Linked DNA regions of Homo sapiens: regions 2, 3 and 4 are each linked to region 1. Evidence: fine-mapped expression QTL. A gene starts in region 1. Each other region holds a variant in brackets. All regions are shown on one strand. Distances are from middle to middle.

The links.
Region 2: its variant is fine-mapped to the expression of C5 in blood mononuclear cells (TOPMed, PIP 0.99).
Region 3: its variant is fine-mapped to the expression of C5 in adrenal gland (GTEx, PIP above 0.99). The same link has a PIP of 0.9 or more in cerebellar hemisphere.
Region 4: its variant is fine-mapped to the expression of C5 in whole blood (INTERVAL, PIP above 0.99).

Annotation. Positions count from the first base shown.
Region 1 is chr9:121,047,982-121,052,981 of GRCh38, forward strand. It overlaps C5 (complement C5), which reads right to left and starts at 2,294. Exons shown (of 41, transcript NM_001735.3): 1 at 2,201-2,294. The coding sequence starts at 2,265. LOC124902261 (a long non-coding RNA gene) reads left to right here and starts at 4,876. Exons shown (of 3, transcript XR_007061753.1): 1 at 4,876-5,000.
Region 2 is chr9:121,129,960-121,135,223 of GRCh38, forward strand. The region is part of intron 14 of CNTRL (centriolin); the gene reads left to right. Among named protein-coding and RNA genes, the nearest start is that of CNTRL, 58 kb to the left of the region's middle. The variant G/A (reference allele first, on the strand shown) is at 2,622.
Region 3 is chr9:120,983,857-120,988,856 of GRCh38, forward strand. The region is part of intron 25 of C5 (complement C5); the gene reads right to left. Among named protein-coding and RNA genes, the nearest start is that of C5-OT1, 34 kb to the left of the region's middle. The variant A/T (reference allele first, on the strand shown) is at 2,019.
Region 4 is chr9:121,070,096-121,075,359 of GRCh38, forward strand. It overlaps CNTRL (centriolin), which reads left to right and starts at 4,860. Exons shown (of 44, transcript NM_007018.6): 1 at 4,860-4,972. It also overlaps a transcript of C5 not described here. RefSeq lists enhancers at 2,032-2,081, 4,435-4,824 and silencers at 4,124-4,320, 4,945-5,004, 5,125-5,264. The variant G/T (reference allele first, on the strand shown) is at 1,927.

The sequences.
Region 1 (5,000 bases):
TAAGGTGAAGAAACTGCTAATTAATTTTCCCAAGGCCACACATATAGGATTTATGAATTCTATAATTCACAAATTATAGAATTAGAAATCGAACCTGAGCAGCCCGTTTCCAGAATTAACATTTTCAACTGTTGTACTAAATGGAATTTATAAAGAGTTTTGTAATTAGAAAAATTTAGGGATATAAAGCTACTTTAATTTCAGTATTTATAGAAGCTTTATGTTTTTAAGTTTAGTATTGCTTTAATTTTGAATTGTGTATGGTAGGGGTCCCCAACCCCTGGGCCATGGACAAATACCAGTCCATGGCTTGTTAGGAACCAGGCTACACAGCAGGAGGTGAGCAGTGGGGCAAAGGAGCATTACCACCTGAGCTCTGCCTCCTGTCAGATCAGTGGTGGCATTAGATTCTCCTAGGAGCATGAACTCTATTGTGAACCGCACATGCGAGGGATCTAGATTGCAAGCTCCTTATGAGAATATAATGCCTGATGATCTGAAGTGGAACAGTTTCATTCTGAAACCATCCCCACCCCAATCCTGGTCCATGGAAACATTGTCTTCCACAAAACCTGTCCCTAGTGCCAAAATGGTTGGGGACTGCTGGTCTATGTGATGGTAGCCGTCAAGCAAAAATACATAGTGTTTAGAAGCCCCTAAAAGAATATTCTGGAACCACCCTTTATAAAGATTTTGGTTCTTATTGACTTATCAGTAGCATAATCTATCCATATAAATAATTTCATAGTTTTCTTTGTCTTTCAATTGCTGCAGAGGAGCAGGAGCTTGCAGAGAGGCAAGAATGTTATTTTGGCCTCTATCTGGAATGCTCTTTCCTCAAATATTTGCATGGTTTGCTTCCTCACTTCCTTCAGGCTCTGTTTGAGTGCAGCCTCCTTAAGAGAACCTTTCCTGGCCACATTTTAAAATAGTGCCCCATAATTATTTTTTAATTCTCATACTCTGCTTTATTTTTTTCTTCATAATACTACCTACCTGACCTTACACATTCTTTCATTGGTTCATTCATTCATTACTTGCTTCTCCCACTAGAATGCAAGCTCTAGGAATTGTCTTACCGTTTGCTATATCTGCAGTGCCTATCATATGTTTAGATGCTCAATAAATATTTGTTGAATCAATCAATCAACCAATTAATTAAAGTGATTGATTGCCATGTTGTAAATGGTACACTCTGACTTCTTCAGAGAAAGTGAGGAAATAATTTTTATTAAGGGCTAGTAGAAAGAATTCAGAATAAGTCTGGACAAGAATCATGGAACCCAGGTCCTAGCCCTAGTTCTGCCACCAATTTGAAGTCACTTAATTTCAGTCTCTCTAAGCCTTAGCTGCTCGTCTTTCAAAAAGAATAAAGGCAGGATGCTAAGGTAGTTGAGTGCTTGTGGCCATGTAAAAAGATCACAGATCAGAAATACGAGGGTGCTAAAAAAGAATGACATCCTAAGTATGTGTTTATATATAATATATTTACATGTATACATTTATGACAAAATGAAAAAAATTGAAGTGATAAACAGGAGACCTTAATAAAAATCCTGTTTCTCTCTCTCTAGAACTGTGACCTTTGGTCAGTCACTTCCCTTATCTGGACTTATTCTCATATATAAAATGAATAGGTTTGATTAGATGATCTGCAGTTACTTTTCAGTATTAAAATATTTCTAGATATAAGATCATTATTTTTAAAACATTACTTAAAATGCATATTATCTCAATAATGACACTAAAAATTGTGAAAAGTCAGCTCATAAATGTATGGTAGAAGTCACTACAACAACAGATTTTCAGATCACAGTATTAGATTGACTCCTAAATAACCCTGGTTTAACTGTGTATAGTCTATGAAAAACACAAAGAAAACTAAACACCAAGTTAAAATAAGCAAAAAATGTCAAGAAAGTTTATTATCTGGAGTTTCTTTTGTGCTTTTTTGAAGAGGAATTTGAATAATCACTTAACGTAAATTTTAATAAATAACAATTCCATAAAAGCTGTCATGTTGTTAGCTACTCATCAAATCAAAATGCTTCCATGACTTTCTCATTCAGAGATGATACTATTCACTTGCTGTTCTCAGAAGTAGCAAGTTATTTTCAAGTTAACAGAATCTGTTAAATTTAACTCTTCATTCGTCATAACTAAGATGCATTGAAAAATGAAGATAGCTTGTTTTACTTACGTTTGCTCCTGTCCCCAGGTTTTCCCCAGGAAGATTAAAAAACAAAGTATTCCCAAAAGGCCCATGGTTGGAGGTAGCAGGAAACCACGGATATAACACTTTTGAGGATAGTCTCCTTTTAAATAAACTGAACTTGAAGAATTCAGATAATCTGGTTAATTATTAATGTCAGAAAGGTGAACCTCTAAGTGGGAAAACTAGAATTGGAACTAAAACACCCTTTCATGCCCAGGAATACAGATAGGGAGTACTTTACAGGAACTTACACCCAGGGAATTTATTTTTATTAATACAAATAAAGGGACCCTAAAATGGGAATTTGGCACTATGAAGAGTGGCTCAAAGCTAGAAACCAGTAAGCCCATTGCTTTGGCCTTTCTTCTCTTGCCCAGGGCATTTGCTTTGATGTTGCATCATCTGCAAGCATACATCTGGCAGGTCCACTCTAATACTGATGAAGACCCACCTGGACTCAGTTTCACACTGAAATGATTTTAGAAGGGGCCTGGTTTAGACAGGGCTCACAAGATGATCTTTTTTTGGTGACCTGAATGGCAGTGTCCTTGGTGCTGCAAATGGTCTGAGCATAACCTAGCTCTGCAAAGGAGGTCTAGGGAATTGTTCCTTGGTCTGTCTCAGTCTAGAGAACACTAGGTGGAGGAAAGTTGTGACTGGCAATGAAAACGCCATGTGGAGGATGCTGTCGTCATTCTCTAAGTATTGGAGAATAGATATTCTCCAATATTTATTAAGGCATATACCACTCGTTCAAAGTTTGTCTTTATTCAGATATAGAATATCTTTCTTTTAAAGAAAACACATGTTATACTTTTCAGTGAGGATTTTAATAATTTTAATATAAGAGCTCCAGAAAAACAAAGCTTCCTATAACAATTGAGTCTAGTAATTAATTCACAATATACTAAAATTTTATCTTTATACTTTTTTTTTTTTTTTTGGAGACAGAGTCTCTTTCTGTCGCCCAGGCTGGAGTCTAGTGGCACTATCTTGGCTCAGGGCAACCTCTGCCTCCCAGGTTCAAGGCATTCTCCTGCCTCAGCCTCCCAAGTAGCTGGGACTACAGGCATGTCCCATCACATCCAGCTAATTTTTTGTATTTTTAGTAGAGGTAGGGTTTCACCGTGTTGGCCAGGCTGGTCTCGAACTCCTGACCTCAGGTGATCCACCCACCTTGGCCTCCCAAAGTACTGGGATTACAGGCATGAGCCACTGTGCCTGGCTGATTTTTAATTAAGTTAATTTTTATGATGTTTTATGTTCATTAGAATTTTTTTATTTACTACCTTCTCTTTTTTAGTACTATTTTTACCTTAATATATAATATGTACTCTTCTTTAAAATAATAAAACAGATGTCTCTAAACATATTTCTATAATGAGATATTTATGATATATAAATGAGATATTTATGGTCACATTGGCATTCTTTGCTTTGAATTAATAAATAATAAACCAAAAATATTTATAAACACTTTAATGCTGAATTCACTAGGGAAAAAAGGAGCACAAAGGGAAATTTGATATACAAATTTCACTAAAGGTATCTCTTGCATATGTCATTGAAATGACAAACATTTGCCACTATTGTCTGATCATCTAGCCCATTTATTTCAAAAGGGAATCTGTGAAATGATTAAGCTGGGTTGCAAAAGATGGGTCAAGTTAAAACAAACAGTACTTTTGCCATCATTTTTGGGAAATGAAATTTAAGAGAGAACAACAACACTCAAATCAAGGTAGGTAATATTTGTATTTTAAGTGCAAATAAGTTTGTTTGCTTGAGCTATAGAGTAAATACTGATAACCAATATTTGCAAGCCATTGTCCTGTTTCTCTGGTAGAAAACATTTAGAGAATGATGGATCTCAAAGATTCTCAACAGAACTGAAGTTTAACAATTTATAGATTCTAAGCTGTGTTTAGTCAAAATTTTTTATCTACCTTCTAAATGTGGCTCACAGATGAACTTTTGAGGCTGGGCACGCTGGCTCACACCTGTAATCCCAGATCTTTGGGAGGCCGAGGTGGGTGGATCACCTGAGGTCAAGAGTTCAAGACCAGCCTGGCCAACATGGCGAAAACCCGCCTCTACTAAAAATACAAAAATTAGCCAGGCGTGGTGGCGGGTGCCTGTAATCCCAGCTACTTGGGAGGCTGAGGCAGGAGATTCACTTGAACCTGGGAGGTGGAGGTTGAGCACAGATCACGCCACCGCACTCCAGCCTGAGCAACAGAGCCAGACTCCATCTCAGAAAAAAAAAAAAAAAAAAAAGATGATTTTTTTTCTTTATAATTTAAAATGTGACCTTTGGTAAGCCTTTCATTTTTATACAAATACTGCATTTCTAAAAGAGAAGAAACTCAGATCTGGCAGAAAGTTTGGTGGTCACCTGACCTTCCTGCTAATGCTGCCTCAATTGTCCCCTCATGATTGAGCCCAAATGACCTAGCCTAGTGCACCAGGCCCCTCTTGAGCCCTGCTTAGTTCTCCAGCCTCAACATTCCATTCTTCACTCCGGCCAAGGAGCTGAATTACCTGATTATTCCCTGAAGTCACCTTGACACCAAGGTGCTCCTAGCAGGATAATAATTTTGTATCTTTCAAATGGATATTCTTTAGTTATTTTGTACTTACTTGGTAAAATATGTCTGGACACCAATTTTCTATTAATACAAACTACAGAACTCTTTTTTATGTATAATAAAAAGATTTTATCATGTATAATTTTCAAAATCAGACAGCTTACAGGGAGGTATATTAATGGGTTGTAAATTTAGAG
Region 2 (5,264 bases), 82 kb after region 1:
AGCCTTGCATCCCAGGGATGAAGCCGACTTGATCGTGGTGGATAAGCTTTTTGATGTGCTGCTGGATTCGGTTTGCCAGTATTTTATTGAGGATTTTCACATCGATATTCATCAGGGATATTGGTCTAAAATTCTCTTTTTTTGTTGTGTCTCTGCCAGGCTTTGGTATCAGGATGATGCTGGCCTCATAAAATGAGTTAGGATTCCCTCTTTTTCTATTCATTGGAAGAGTTTCAGAAGGAATGGTACCAGCTCCTCTTTGTACCTCTGGTAGAATTCAGCTGTGAATCCATCTGGTCCTGGAGTTTTTTTGGTTGGTAGGCTATTAATTATTGCCTCAATTTCAGATCCTGTTATTGGTCTATTCAGAGATTCAACTTCTTCCTGGTTTAGTCTTGGGAGGGTGTATGTGTCCAGGAATTTATCCATTTCTTCTAGATTTTCTAGTTTATTTGCATAAAGGTGTTTATAGTATTCTCTGATGGTAGTTTGTATCTCTGTGGGATTGGTGGTGATACCCTCTTTATCATTTTTTATTGCATCTATTTGATTCTACCCTCTTTTCTTCTTTGTTAGTCTTGCTAGCGGTCTATCTATTTTGTTGATCTTTTCAAAAAACCAGCTCCTGGATTCACTGATTCTTTTGAAGGGTTTTTTGTGTCTCTATCCCCTTTAGTTTGGCTCTGATCTTAGTTGTTTCTTGCCTTCTGCTAGCTTTTGAATGTGTTTGCTCTTGCTTCTCTAGTTCTTTTAGTTGTGTTGTTAGGGTATTGATTTTAGATCTTTCCTGCTTTCTCTTGTGGGCATTTAGTGCTATACATTTCCCTTTACACACTGCTTTAAATGTGTCCTAGAGATTCTGGTATGTTGTGTCTTTGTTCTCATTGGTTTCAAAGAACATCTTTATTTCTGCCTTCATTTCATTGTGTATCCAGTAGTCATTAGGAGCAGGTCGTTTAGTTTCCATGTGGTTGAGTGGTTTTGAGTGAGTTTCTTAATCCTGAGTTCTAATTTGATTGCACTGTGGTCTGAGAGACAGTTTGTTGTGATTTCTGTTCTTTTACATTTTTTGAGGAGTGCTTTACTTCCAACTATGTGGTCAATTTTGGAATAAGTGAGATGTGGTGCTGAGAAGAATGTATATTCTGTTGATTTGGGGTGGAGAATTCTGTAGATATCTATTAGGTCTGCTTGGTGCAGAGCTGAGTTCAATTCCTGGATATCCTTGTTAACCTTCTGTCTTGTTGATCTGTCTAATATTGACAGTGGGGTGTTAAAGTCTCCCATTATTATTGTGTAGGAGTCTAAGTCTCTTTGTAGGTCTCTAAGGACTTGCTTTATGAATCTGGGTTCTCCTGTATTGGGTGCATATATGTTTAGGATAGTCAGCCCTTCTTGTTGAATTGATCCCTTCACCATTATGTAATACCCTTCTTTGTCGCTTTTGATCTTTGTTGGTTTAAAGTCTGTTTTATCAGAGACTAGGATTGCAGGCCCTGCTTTTTTTTGCTTTCCATTTGCTTGGTAGATCTTCCTCCATTCCTTTATTTTGAACCTATGTGTGTCTCTGCACATGAGATGGGTCTCCTGAATATAGCACACTGATGGGTCTTGACTCTTTATCCAATTTGCCAGTCTGTGTCTTTTAATTGGGGGCATTTAGCCCATTTACATTTAAGGTTAATATTGTTATGTGTGGATTTGATCCTGTTGTTATGATGCTAGCTGGTTATTTTGTCCGTTAGTTGATGCAGTTTCTTCCTGGCATTGATGGTCTTTACAATTTGGCATGTTTTTGCAGTGGCTGGTACGGGTTGTTCCTTTCCATGTTTAGTGCTTCCTTCAGGAGCTCTTGTAAGGCAGGCCTGGTGGTGACAAAATCTCTCAGCATTTGCTTGTCTGTAAAGGATTTTATTTCTCCTTCACTCATGAAGCTTAGTTTGGTTGAATATGAGATTCTGGGTTGAAAATTATTTTCTTTTAAGAATGTTGAATATTGGCCTCTACTCTCTTCTGGCTTGTAGAGTTTCTGAGAGATCTGCTGTTAGTCTGATGGGCTTCCCTTTGTGGGTAACCCAGCCTTTCTCTCTGGCTGCCCTTACATTTTTTCCTTCATGTCAACCTTAGGGAATCTGACAATTATGTGTCTTGGAGTTGCTCTTCTCGAGGAGTATCTTTGTGGTGTTCTCTGTATTTCCTGAATTTGAATGTTGGCCTGCCTTGCTAGGTTAGGGAAGTTCTCCTGGATAATATCCTGAAGAGTGTTTTCCAACTTAGTTCCATTCTCCCTGTCACTTTTCAGGTACACCATTCAAACGTAGATTTGGTCTTTTCACATAGTCCCATATTTCTTGGAGGCTTTGTTCATTTCTTTTTACTCTTTTTTCTCTAAACTTCTCTTCTTGCTTTATTTCGTTAATTTGATCTTCAGTCACTGATACCCTTTCTTCCACTTGATCAAATTGGCTACTGAAGCTTGTGCATGTGTTACGTAGTTCTCATGCCATGGTTTTCAGCTCCATCAGGTCATTTAAGGTCTTCTCTACACTCTTTATTCTAATTAGCCATTCGTCTAATCTTTTTTCAAGGTTTTTAGCTTCCTTTCAATGGGTTCAAACATC[G/A]TCCTTTAGCTTGAAGAAGTTTGTTATTACTGACCTTCTGAAGCCTACTTCTGTCAGCTCATCAGAGTCATTCTCCATCCAGCTTTGTTCTGTTGCTGGTGAGAAGCTGCCATCCTTTGGAGGAGAAGAGGCGCTCGGTTTTTAGAATTTTCAGCTTTTCTGCTGTGGTTTCTCCCCATCTTTGTGGTTTTATCTACCTTTGGCCTTTGGTCTTTGGTCTACCTCCAGATGGGGTTTTGGTGTGGATGTCCTTTTTGTTGATGTTAAGGCTATTCCTTTCTGTTTGTTAGTTTTCCTTCTAACAGTCAGGTCCCTCAGCTGCTGGTCTGTTGGAGTTTGCTAGAGGTCCACTCCAGACCCTGTTTGCCTCGGTATCACAAGTAGAGGCTGCAGAACAGCAAATATTGCTGCCTAATCCTTCCTCTGGAAGCTTCTTCCCAGAGGGGCACCCGCCTGTATGATGTGTCAGTTGGCCCCTACTGGGAGGTGTCTCCCAGTTAGGCTACACGGGGGTCAGGGACCCACTTGAGGAGGCAGTCTGTCCGTTCTCTGAGCTCAAACACTGTGCTGGGAGAACCACTGCTCTCTTCAGAGCTGTCCTACAGGGACGTTTGAGTCTGCAGAAGTTTCTGCTGCCTTTTGTTCAGCTATGCCCTGCTCCTAAAGGTGGAGTCTACATGTAGAGGCAGAGGTCTTGCTGAGCTGCGGTGGGCTCCGCCCAGTTCGAGCTTCCTGGCTGCTGTGTTTACCTACTCAAGCCTCAGCAATGGTGAACGCCCCTCCCCCTGCCAGGCTGCTGCCTCCAAGGTCTATCTCAGACTGCTACACTAGCAGTGAGCAAGGCTCTGTGAGCATGGGACCTGCTGAGCCAGGTGTGGGATATGATCTCCTGGTGTGCTGTTTGCTAAGACCATTGGAAAAGCACAGTATTTGGGTGAGAGTGTCCTGTTTTTCCAGGTACTGTCTTCTGTGAATGTACGGCTTCCCTTGGCTAGGAAAGGGAAATCCCCCGACGCCTTGCATTTCCTGGGTGAGGCGATGCCCTGCCCTGCTTCGGGTCGCCCTCCATGGGCTGCACCCACTGTCCAATCAGTGCCAATGAGATAAACCAGGTACCTCAGTTGGAAATGCAGAAATCACCCGTCGTCTGCGTCGATCACGCTGGGAGCTGCAGACCAAGCTGTTCCTATTTGGCCATCTCGGAACGGGATTCAATTTTATATATATTTTTATACAGATTTTTTTTCCTGAACCATTTGGAAATCAGTTGTAGACATCATGCTCCTTTGCTTCTAAATATTTCAGTATGTATTTCCTATGAACAAGGACATTTTCTAACATAAACACAGAATAATTATCAAATTTAGGAAATTCAGTATTTTATCAGACTTCATGTTTGCCAGTCTGCTGAGCTTTAAAGGACTTCTTTCCATCTTTCTATTGTGAAGATGTTTACAGTTACAAGAAAGTTGAACAAATAGTTTGGTGAACATCTGTGAACCTCTTGGATTCAATAAATATTTTGATTTATTTATTTTCTCTTTCTCATAGACACATACTTTTTTCCTTTGCTCATTAGAAAGTTGTAGATATCATAACATCATCCCTTCAACACACATTTTTTTAAGAGCATTTTCCTGCATCACTACGATATCATTATTACACCTAAGAAAAATGACGGTAATTCCCTAATGTCCTCTAATATCATTATTATTTTTTTTTTTTTTTGAGATGGAGTCTTGCTCTGTCACCAGGCTGGGAATGCAGTGGCATGATCTTCGCTCACTGCAACCTCCGCCTCCCAGGTTCAAGTGATTCCGCTGCCTCAGCCTCCTAAGTAGCTGGGACTACAGGCGTGTGCCACCACGCCTGGCTAATTTTTTTGTGTGTGTGTTTTGGTAGAGATAGGTTTCACCATGTTGGCCAGGATGGTCTCAATCTCCTGACTTCGTGATCCACCCGCCTTGGCCTCCCAAAGTGCTGGGATTACAGGCATGAGCCACTGTACCCGGCCCTAAGGTCCTCTAATATCTGAACCATATTCAGATTTTCTTGATTGTCCCAAGAATGTGTGTGTGTGTGCACATGCGTGTGTGAAATCCAGGCTGGTATTCTGTAGATTGAACCACGTTCTGGGTTTGACTGATTGTTTCCTCATGGTGTGTTTAACTTGTATCTCTATGTTCTATGTAAAATAGTATCTTAAGTTAACTGCATTTTCCCCTGGTTACTGGAGAGGCTGATCACCTTTCATTTGCTGTTCAAGTTTCCTCTTGAGTGAATTCCCTATTCTATTTTTTGTTGAACTGTCTCTGCCTTTTCTTAAAGATTTGTAGGAATTCTTTACATATTCTGGATAATAATCTTTGGTTGGTTATATGTAGTATCTATATTTTAAACAAGCAGCCCAAATGATTGAATTGCCAAGTGGTTTTTGGACAATTCTTTTGTAGAAGTTCTCATCGTAGAATCCTCCTCTTTAATCTGTAATAGTTTGATCCCAAGTAAATAGATGAAAGAGATAAGGTTTAATCACAAAACACAAATGGACTAAAATGAATCAGAACCATGGTATGCTAATAAATATGTACTTATATTCTTGTTAGCACTCATTTAAGGTACTCTTATCATCCTTAATATTAG
Region 3 (5,000 bases), 64 kb before region 1:
AGTCCCTGTCCCCCTCCACCTCCCAACAGAAGATGACCATTGTTTCTTGTGCTTTCTTCCAAATAGTAGATACAAGATATAGCCTTCCCATCTACCTTTCCATCCCAACCACACCAAAATGGTGGGAGAATGTTTACATTATCCTGTACTTGGCTTTTTTTCCATTTAGTAATATGCCTTAGAGATCTATATTAATACATAAAGTTTCCTTGTTCTTTTACAAGTGATTTTATACATTAAATTATAGTATTTTGGTACAGATGCACCAAAGCTATTTAAGCCATTTCCCTTTCTGTAGACATTTAGGTTGTTCTCAGTCTTTGCTCTAATTGATTTAATTATTTTAAAGATTTTTTTTTTGATATTAATCGGAACTTGCCCCTCCACAACTAGGTGCCTTTTCCTAATTCTTTCTCTAGAAACATCAGAAATTTATTTTCTACTCTATTGACTTTTAGGGGGTAAGAGTTGAGAGCTCCTCTCTTTTTAATCCTCCCACACTGCTCTCAAGGATGAGAAATACTTCTACGGATTGCTCAGGTTCAAGGACACTCACATTTTCAAAGATTGGCCCACATTTTACATTGGGTCTCTCTTGGGATTTTGGCTTTTGGAAGTCTCTCTTCTTTTAGCAGGCTAGAAAGGCATATGAGTGCAGTTATACGGCCAGGCTGCCTCTCCACTTATCTATACATCTGTATATATAAAGATGCTTTAGTTACATCTTTGAAAAAAGGCAATGGCAATAAATAGAAACAACGGACTCATCCTTTGGGATCAATTATAAAGATTAAATATATGAACATACTTAAAATAGTTCTGGATTATAGTAAGTATTCAATAGGTATAAGCTCTTACTTTTTTTTTTTTTTTTTTTTTTTTTCAGACGGACTCTCTCTCTGTTGCCCAGGCTGGAGTGCAATGGCGCAATCTTGGCTCACTACAGCTTCCACCTCCCAGGTTCAAGCGATTCTCCTGCCTCAGCCTCCTGAGTAGGTGGGACTACAGGCACGTGCCACCATGCCAAGCTAATTTTTGTATTTTTAGTAGAGACAGGGTTTCACCATGTTGGCCAGGCTGGTCTCAAACTCCTGACCTCAGGTGATCCACCCGCCTCAGCCTCCCAAAGTGCTGGGATTATAGGTGTGAGCCACTGCACCTGGTTTTTATAAGCTCTTACTCCTATCTCTCTTTCTCTTTGGTACTCTTGGGTGTCTCATCCCTGGTATCCTTAAGGAGTGAGAGTCTAGACAGCACTTCCCTAAAGGTAAAGCAAATACAATTCGCTCTAGCTTTTTGCGTTCTCCTCTTCCCACTGACCTGTCCCTTGGAGACTGCCCTGAAATTCAAATTTTAAGTGTGACATGGAGGAAAAAAAGAAGTAGGCTATTTGATTTGCTTTTGTTCCAGACCCTAGGCTACCTCTACAAGTGCTTAATATGGTCTAGTTTAGTTCCTCATGTTTTACAGTAGGGTCTGGGACTAAAAATTTAGAGTAGAAAAGAATTTTTTAGTCACCTTGAAGAGAAATCTGGCAAAATCTGATGAAACTGTAAATATGCATTCCTTATGTTCCAGCAATTCTATCTCCTGGGATATACCCTAGAGAAACTCTCACACATGTGCACAAAGAGACATATGAAGATGTTCATTATCATATTGTTTGTAATATTAAAATTTGGAAATGGTTGTCCATCAAGATAGGAATAGATAAAGAATATATACTATGTGATATATTTGTAAAATAAAATACTGCATGGCAATGAAAAGGAGTGAGCTATATTTACCTATACTACTAGATCTAAAGTAACTAAAAAGTATTAAAAGAAAAAGGTAAGTTACAGAATGATAGGTATAGTATGATACTAGTTATAATCATTTAGAAATACAAAAAGGGACTGTAAACCCATCACTTCATTTTGGAAGCAAATAACCATTCTTTCTTTTACAATGCTTAACTTTCTTAAACAGTGCTTACTTAAGAATTCCAGGAACTAGCCATGAGATAAAAATCAAGG[A/T]TGTGAAATGTCCCCTGGAGAAGAAAAATACTGAGCAGTTAATCTACAAACCTGTTTCAGTCTAGCTGACCACTAGATGGCCCGTTACTCAAGATAATAATCAGAACAAGACATGCTGACCTGTACGTAGCTAACTCTTGCACACAGTTTTCCAAGCCCCTTCCTCTTTAAAATCCCTCTGGCCAGCCTAGGGCATTTGGGATAGTTTCCTGACTCTAGTCTGCCATCTCCTTGGGTTGCTGGCTCCTGAATTAACCTGCTTTTCCTCCCACCAACCTTAGTCTCTTGAGTTTGGCATTTGAGCAGTGAGCAGCCAAACTGGAGTTAAGTTACAGCTATATGATTTCATGTATATATATACTATATAAAATATTAAAAATGTTCTGGAAAGATGCATAAACTCATGATAGTGAATGCCCTTGGGGGAAAGAAACAGAAATAAGATGGAGGCTTGTAGTTAAAGAGAAAAGTTCAATATCCACAATGTTCTTTAAAAAAAAAAAAAGACGAATATAAAAAATGTTCATCATCATCAATTTTGGGTTTTGCTAATATGAATGATATTCGTACTTTAAAAAATCTGCTTTGTATTTCTCAAGAAAAGTTTGAGGGTATTTAGGTGCTGGACATTTTCTTCTATGTCTATTATTTCTTTCAAGGAACTCATGGAGTTGGGTGTATGTTTCAGTCTTGCCCCAAACTCTTGAAAGGCTCTGAGTGTTTACTGAGAGGCTGTTGTACCTTCCTGTGGGGCTTTCTGCTCTCCAGGCATCTATTTCCCAGGTCCTGCTGTGTCAGTTTCCAGTCTTCATTGACACTCACTCCCACTCCTGCATCCTGGGTTATCCTCTGGTTGGTGTGCTGCAGGGGTCTATGAGCCTTTTATTTATTTTTTTATATTTTTATTGTTTTATTAAAGACAGGGTCTCCCTATGTTACCCAGTCTGGTCTGGAACTCCTCTGCTCAAGCCATCCTCCTGCTTCAGCCTCCCAAAGTGCTAGGATTATAGGTGTGAGCCACTGTATCTGGCCCTGTGTGTCTTTTGAAGTGTGTCACCCACACATGGTCAGACCTAATCCTAAGGTATAATCTATGGAACTTGGTAGCTGATCAGAGGTAAAGCCAAAAGGAAAGGAAGGAATCAAAAACCAACTGATGATTCTGACTTGATCCATGGGGGACAAAGGGCAGGGTATTGTTGTGCACTGAGTAAAGAAACAGAAGTGTATTTGAGGAAGAAAATAATGAATTTGGCACATATTGTGCTTGAAGGATCTTTGGCTTCCGGAAACCTAGAAATATGGATCTAGGACATTTCCTAACTTCTTAGGAAAGAAGTTAGGCCTTGAGACATTGATTAGGGGGCCATTGGCCTAGATGTTATGGAAATCATGGGCAATAATGAGACTGTACCAGGGGAGATTACAGAAAATAAGAGGGCCAAAGATAAAATTCTGGGAGATCTCAATAGCTAAAGAAAAAAAACTGGCCAGGCGCAGTGGCTCATGCCTGTAATCCCAGCCCTTTGGGAGGTTGAGGTGGGTGGATCACGAGGTCCGGAGATCGAGACCATCCTGGCCAACATGGTGAAACCCCACCTCTACTAAAAATACAAAAATTAGGCATGGTGGTGCGCGCCTGTAATCCCAGCTCTCAGGAGGCTGAGCCAGGAGAATCGCTTGAACCCGGGAGGCGGAGGTTGCAGTGAGCCGAGATCGTGCCACTGCACTCCAGCCTGGGAACAGAGCAAGACTCCGTCTCAAAAAAAAAAAAAAGAAAAAAGAAAAAAGAAAAAAATCTAAAATTAAAGTATTCTAGGTTGTAAACTCCTTAAATATGTTTCATATAGAACCTACAAAGCAGCTGGCACACCGTTTTTATTAAATATTTTGTCATAGCATGATGGTTTTTTTGTTTTGTTTTGTTTTGTTTTTTGAGACAGAGTCTCACTCTGTCACCCGGGCTGGAGTGCAGTAGCGCGATCTCGGCTCACTGTAACCCTTGCCTCCTGGGTTTAAGTGATTCTCCTGCCTCAGCCTCCTGAGTAGCTGGGACTACAGGCACATGCCACTACGCCCAGCTAATTTTTGTATTTTTCATAGAGACGGGGTTTCACCATGTTGGCCAGGATGGTCTCGATCTCTTGACCTCATGATCCGCCCGCCTTGTCCTCCCAAAGTGCTGGGATTACAGGCGTGAGCCACCATGCCCAGCCGGTATTTTTTGAAAATAGACTGCCATATGGACTCTTAATTAATTCAGACTATCTTTCCCTCAAATCATCAGAATTTTGGAAGATATGTTTCATTGAATAAATACTTACTGAGCATCTACTATGTGCCAGGTAGGTACCAGGCACTAGGGATACTTAGAACTTCCCGCATGGAGCTTATATTCCAGTGGGGGAGATACACAATAGTGGAATAAGCAAGAACGTTAGTAATCACACTGAGGAGAAAAGAAACGATATGAGGTGTTGGGAGGGGAGTGGATTGCAATTTTAGACATTATGATATAGCAGAGGCCTCCCCAAGGTGACATTTGGTAAAGACCTGAGGGAAATATGAGAGCCAGTCATGCTGACACCTAAGGAGGAGTATTCCAGACTGAGAAAACAGTGCAAAGGCCCTGAGGTGGAAGCATGCCTGGTGTGTTTGAGGAAGGCTAGTGGGGCTGAATTGGAGGGAAAGAGAGTATAGGAGATAAAGTAGGAGACATGAGGTGGAGCCAGATCATACAGAGCTTTGTAAATCACAATAAAAAGTTTGGTTTTTACTCTGGGTAAGATGGGAAGCTCCTAAATGGTTTTGAGTGGCATGATCTAACATATGTTTTAACAGGGTCACTTCAGTTGCTGTGTTGAGTATATACTGAAGAGGATCAAGGGCTGAACCCAGAAGACTAAGGGAGACTAGTGTAAGAATCCAGGTGGGAGAGGAAGGTGTCTTGGAACAGGATAGTGTGGTGGAGGTGGTGAGAAG
Region 4 (5,264 bases), 22 kb after region 1:
GCCTGTAATCCCAGCACTTTGAGAGGCCGAGGCAGGTGGATCACCTGAGGTCAGGAGTTCGAGACTAGCCTGACCAACATGGAGAAACCCCATCTCTACTAAAAATACAAAATTAGCTGGGTATGTTGGCAGGCGCCTCTAATCCCAGCTACTCGGGAGGCTGAGGCAGGAGAATCGCTTGAACCTAGGAGGCAGAGGTTGCGGTGAGCTGAGATCATGCCATTGCACTGCAGCCTGGGCAACAAGAACAAAATTCTGAAAGAAAGAAAGAAGGAAGGAAGGAAGGGTGATATATATATATATATATATATATATATATATATATATATATGTATGTATATTCTGTATGTGTATATATATATGTATATTCTGTATGTGTATATATATGTGTGTGTGTGCGTATTCATATATATATACATACATACTTACAATGGAATACTATTCAGCCATAAAAAAGAATGAAATACTGTAATTCACAGCAACACGGATGGAAATGGAAGACAGTATATTACGTGAATAAGCCAGGAACAGTAAGTTAAATGCCACATGTTCTCAGTCATATGTCGAAGCTGAAAAATGTTGATCTCATAGGAGTAAACAGTAGAACAGAGGATACTAAAGGTTGGGAAGGGTAGCAGGGGGAAGGGAAGGAGAGAAAGATATCTTAAAGGATACAAAATTATAGCTAGATAGGAGCAATAAGTTCTAGTGTTCTATACTTACTATAGGATGAGGATAGTTAACAATAATATATTATATAGTTTCAAATAGCTAGAAGGAGGGTATGAAATCTTCCTAAAATAAACATATGATGTTTGGGATGATGGATATGCTAATTACTCCAACCACTATACATTTATATGTATTAAAACATCACTATGTATCCCATAAATATGTACAGTTACTACATGTCATTTAAAAATAAAAATTAAGGTTGGGTATGGTGACTCACACCTACAAACCTAGCACTTTGGGGGACCAAGGCAAGCGGATACTTGAGGCCAGGAGTTGAAGACCAGCCTGATCAACATGGTGAAGCACTGTCTGTACTAAAAATACACACACATACACAAAAATAGCTGGGCGTGGAGTCACACACCTGTAATCACAGCTACTGGGGAGGCTAAGGCACAAAAATTGTTTGAACCCTGGAGGTGGAGGTTGCAGTGAGCCATGATCGTGCTACTGCACTCCAGCCTGGGCAACAGAGTGAGACTCTGTCTCAAAAAAACAAAAACAAGAACAAAAAACAAAACACACCAACAAAAACAAAAAAAAATAAATGAATAAAAATTAAAAAAAAATCAGGCTGGGCATGCTGGCTCATGCGTGTAATCCCAGCACTTTGGGAGGTTGAGGTGGGAGGATCGCTTGAGCCCAGGAGTTTAAGACCAGCCTGGGCAACACAGCAAGACCCCATCTTTACAAAAAGTTTAAAAATTAGCTAGGTGTGGTGGTGCACACCTATAGACTGAGCTATTTGGGAGGCTGAGGGAGGAGGATCACTTGAGTCTGAGAAGTCAAGGCTGCAGTGAGTTATGATTGTGTCACTGCACTGAAACCTGGGTGACAGAGTGAGACCTTGTCTTAAAAAACAAAACAACAAAATCACACTGGCCAGTCACAGAAAGAAATGGCAATAATGAAAGTTGCCATCCCTGTCTGACAAACTAGTCTGTTTCTTCTCTAAAACAAATTCGCAAAATGATTAAACTGGGTTGCAAAAAGCTGAGGGAAGTTTAAACAGAATAGCTTTGCTATCATTTGGAAAAAAGACTGAGTAAAAGCTTGGTCACCCTGACGTGGCTAATATTTGTATTGTAAATGCAACTCAGAGTACATTCTTCATAATATCAGATAAAGAAAAATAGTGTGGAACGCGAGTTGTCTGCGTTACTTTCGTATTCTCACTTCTGCTTTGGAGAA[G/T]GAAGTTCTTTTAGCATGCTAAGAGAGACAGTTAATATTCAAATTAACTGGAGAAAGGTCTCTCCTTTGAAGTCTCTAGCTTCGTTAGAGATGATGCTAGACACCAGCAGAGGTCTGTATGAGGAGGAAAAGGGGGCAACATGGGACCGGTGAGTGCCCATCCGCGGCTAACTGGATACGGACTGAGAGATCACCCAAGAGAAAAGTGTTTTGCGCCACCCTCTGGACTTTTTATGTATATTTGATGGCTATTAATTGATACTAATATGATTGATAATGAACTACATCAGCACACCACGGCTTGATAATGGATCCCACGTGAATACCATTACAGACTTTGAGGGACACAGCAATGAGGTTACGCAATAAATCTAAGTTTCTGGGTACAAGAAACCGAAACGATGGGTGTCAAAACATATGCAAATAGAACTGAAACTCAGCAACGTACACATTCCAATCTAATAAATATCACCTGAACTTCGATTAAAAATGAATGTAATCTCGGCAGGGCGCGGTGGCTCACGCCTGTAATCCCAGCACTTTGGGAGGCCGAGGCGGGCGGATCACGTGAGGTCAGGAGATTGAGACCAGCCTGACCAACATGGTGAAACTCTGTTTCTACTAAAATACAAAAATTAGCTGGCCTTGGTGGTGCGTGCCTGTAATCCCAACTCCTCGGGAGGCTGAGGCAGGAGAATCGCTTGAACCCGGGAGGCGGAGGTTGCACTGAGCCGAGATCCTGCCACTGCACTCCAGCCTGGGTGACAGAGCCAGACTCTGTTCAAAAAATTAAAAAAAAAAAAAAAAAAAAGAAAAGAAAAAAAATGAATGTAATCTCCTCTTAAGTGGAGCTTTTCAAAAATTCTGCGTTTAAACTCCAAGGGCTTCGTTCTGTGTCGTGTAAATAGTTGGGGAGAGGACAGCACCATTCACTTAAATGTCAATGGGAATCACATTTAAGTAAAAGGAAAAGGAAATCAGTAAATCAAAGTAAATCAAAGACACATCTGCATCCCCATGTTTATTGCAGCTTATTCCCTGTTGGACGTCCCCTGAATTTCCTATAGAGGTGAAGCCATCTCTGCCTTAAGGAAAAATGAAGTGCCTAATACTGCTTATAATATGGTCCCTTTTCCAGATTTAGCTTCTCCACCCCAGATTTTTGCACAAGCCATACTGAACTACTTCATGTTTCCATACTCATGTTTTGTTCCAGCCACACTGAATTACTTAACATTCAGCACATTGCCAAGCTCTTTTCCCCCGCTTCCGGGGTTTGCACAAGTTGTTCCCTTTGCCAAGCAAATTCTTCCCCACCTCCCTACTCCTTGCCTAAACTCTTCTTTTGGGCGTAGAAAGAAGTATTGCTTCTGGGTAACCTTTGTCTAATAATGAAATATCTAAGACATATTGAGAACTTACTATGGGTCCCTCACTGTTCTAAGTTCTTTCACAGAGATTCACTTTTATAATTATCAGGAAAACTGGACTTTTTTTTTTTTTTTTTTTTTTTGAGATGGAGTCTCGCTCTGTCGTCCAGGCTGGAGTGCAGTGGCGCGATCTCGGCTCACTGCAACCTCCGCCTCCCGGGTTCAAGCGATCCTCCTGCAGCCTCTCAAGCAGCTGGGATGACAAGCGTGCGCCACCACGCCCGGGTAATTTTTGTATTTTTAGTAGAGACGGCGTTTCACCTTGTTGGCCAGGCTGATCTTGAATTCCTGACCTCAAGTGATCCTCCCACCTTGGTCTCCCAAAGTGCTGGGATTACAGGCATGAGCCACAGCGCCCGGCCAGGATTCACTTTTATAATTATCAGGAAAACTGTAGGAAGTGTTAATAGGTAAAAGGACCTCATTTCATAGATAAGGAAACTGAGACACAGAGAGAGAGGGAGTTTCTAAAAGTGTTATACAGGTGGCCTATAAACTCTGTAGTGAAGAAAGGAAATGAAGACAGGATAGAATGATCGCGAGAAAATGGTAAGAACAAGGGACTGGAAGACGCAAGGAAGTTTAGAAATACGCTGGCATAGGGGTCTTTTGAGCAGGCACGCTGCTAAGATGATAGGATTATAGTCAAGGATGGGGAGCGATTGCACTGGGGATTTCTGGAGCGGGTGCAGCCTCTGATGGTAACATGGTCCAGGGTATACCTTCAAAACGGGAGGCTACTGGAGTGAAAGGCGTCAATGGTGATAACACTTTAAAAAAAACTTCAGTGTTTCCCTAGCATCCAGCCCAGTATCTGCTAAATTCTTTAAAATATCTGTTGAATGCATGTCGTGAACGCCGTGCTCATGGGCAAGCCCCAGATGAAGCCTGTGCAAGTGCTTCTTGCTTTAACTCCCTTGTAGCAATCAGAGGAACATCCTCTGCCTAGGATTCCCAAGCTCCCTGAACCTCACGCGACAGCTGGAGCCCAGGCTGCGTCCGCTTTGAGGTTCATCCGAGCCTGGGCAGTTCGGTCCCTGGAGGGAATTCGCTTTAGATACGACTGTCAGAGAGAAGTGTGCTGATAAGAACACTCGCTCATAGCGCGCAAGCATCAGAAGTGGGGGAGGCCGGGGAGGCGCTGCGCCGGTGCCTCAGGCCGTCCTCGGACACAGGCCCTGAGAAGCGTGTCCGTGTTTCAGAGGGTGGCGGCGGCAGCTTTGTCTCAGCGAAGGCCACAGCACTGCGGGCAGCTGCCGCATGAAACCTCGGCTCCCCCTGACTCTGCACCCGACACTTCACCTGCAACGCAATCCGAAGGCGAAGGCACCGCATCCCGTCGGCCCCGCGCGGCCGGAAGCCTCGCGCCCAAGACTCCCCGGCATCCTAGCGCGCTGGCTGCAAAAGAGGCGGGAAACGCCTCCGCGTCCCTTCCAACAGTACCGGAGAGGGAGAGGGGCGTGGCTGAGACTAGCCCCGACCACGCGCGCGCGGCCCCTCGGCAACCGGCACAACACAACAAAATGGCTGCCGCGCCGCTGGGCCCCTGAGGAAAGAGCCCGAACTTCTCCCGCTCTACCTCAGCCTGCGGGACTGCTCGGCTCGGCTTCTAGGCGGTGAGCGTCAGACCTGGCCGAGCCCGTTCCCCGGCATCCGGCCCGAGCAGTGGGGGCCGGCGGCAAAGGCGGGAAGGCCCGGACCGGGCGTGGTGTGGGCCGGCTTGGGATGGATTCGGGGCGGGGGCGCGTGTCTGGGAATTGGGATTGGACGGGAAAGAGGGGAGGGCCCGGAACGGGCGTGGGGCGGTGGATGAAGGAGGGAGGTTTGGATGGGAAGAGGTGGGGACGGCGGGGGCGATTGGGGATGAAGAACCAGAGTGTGGGGAGGTGTGGAAGTTAGGGTGCGGCG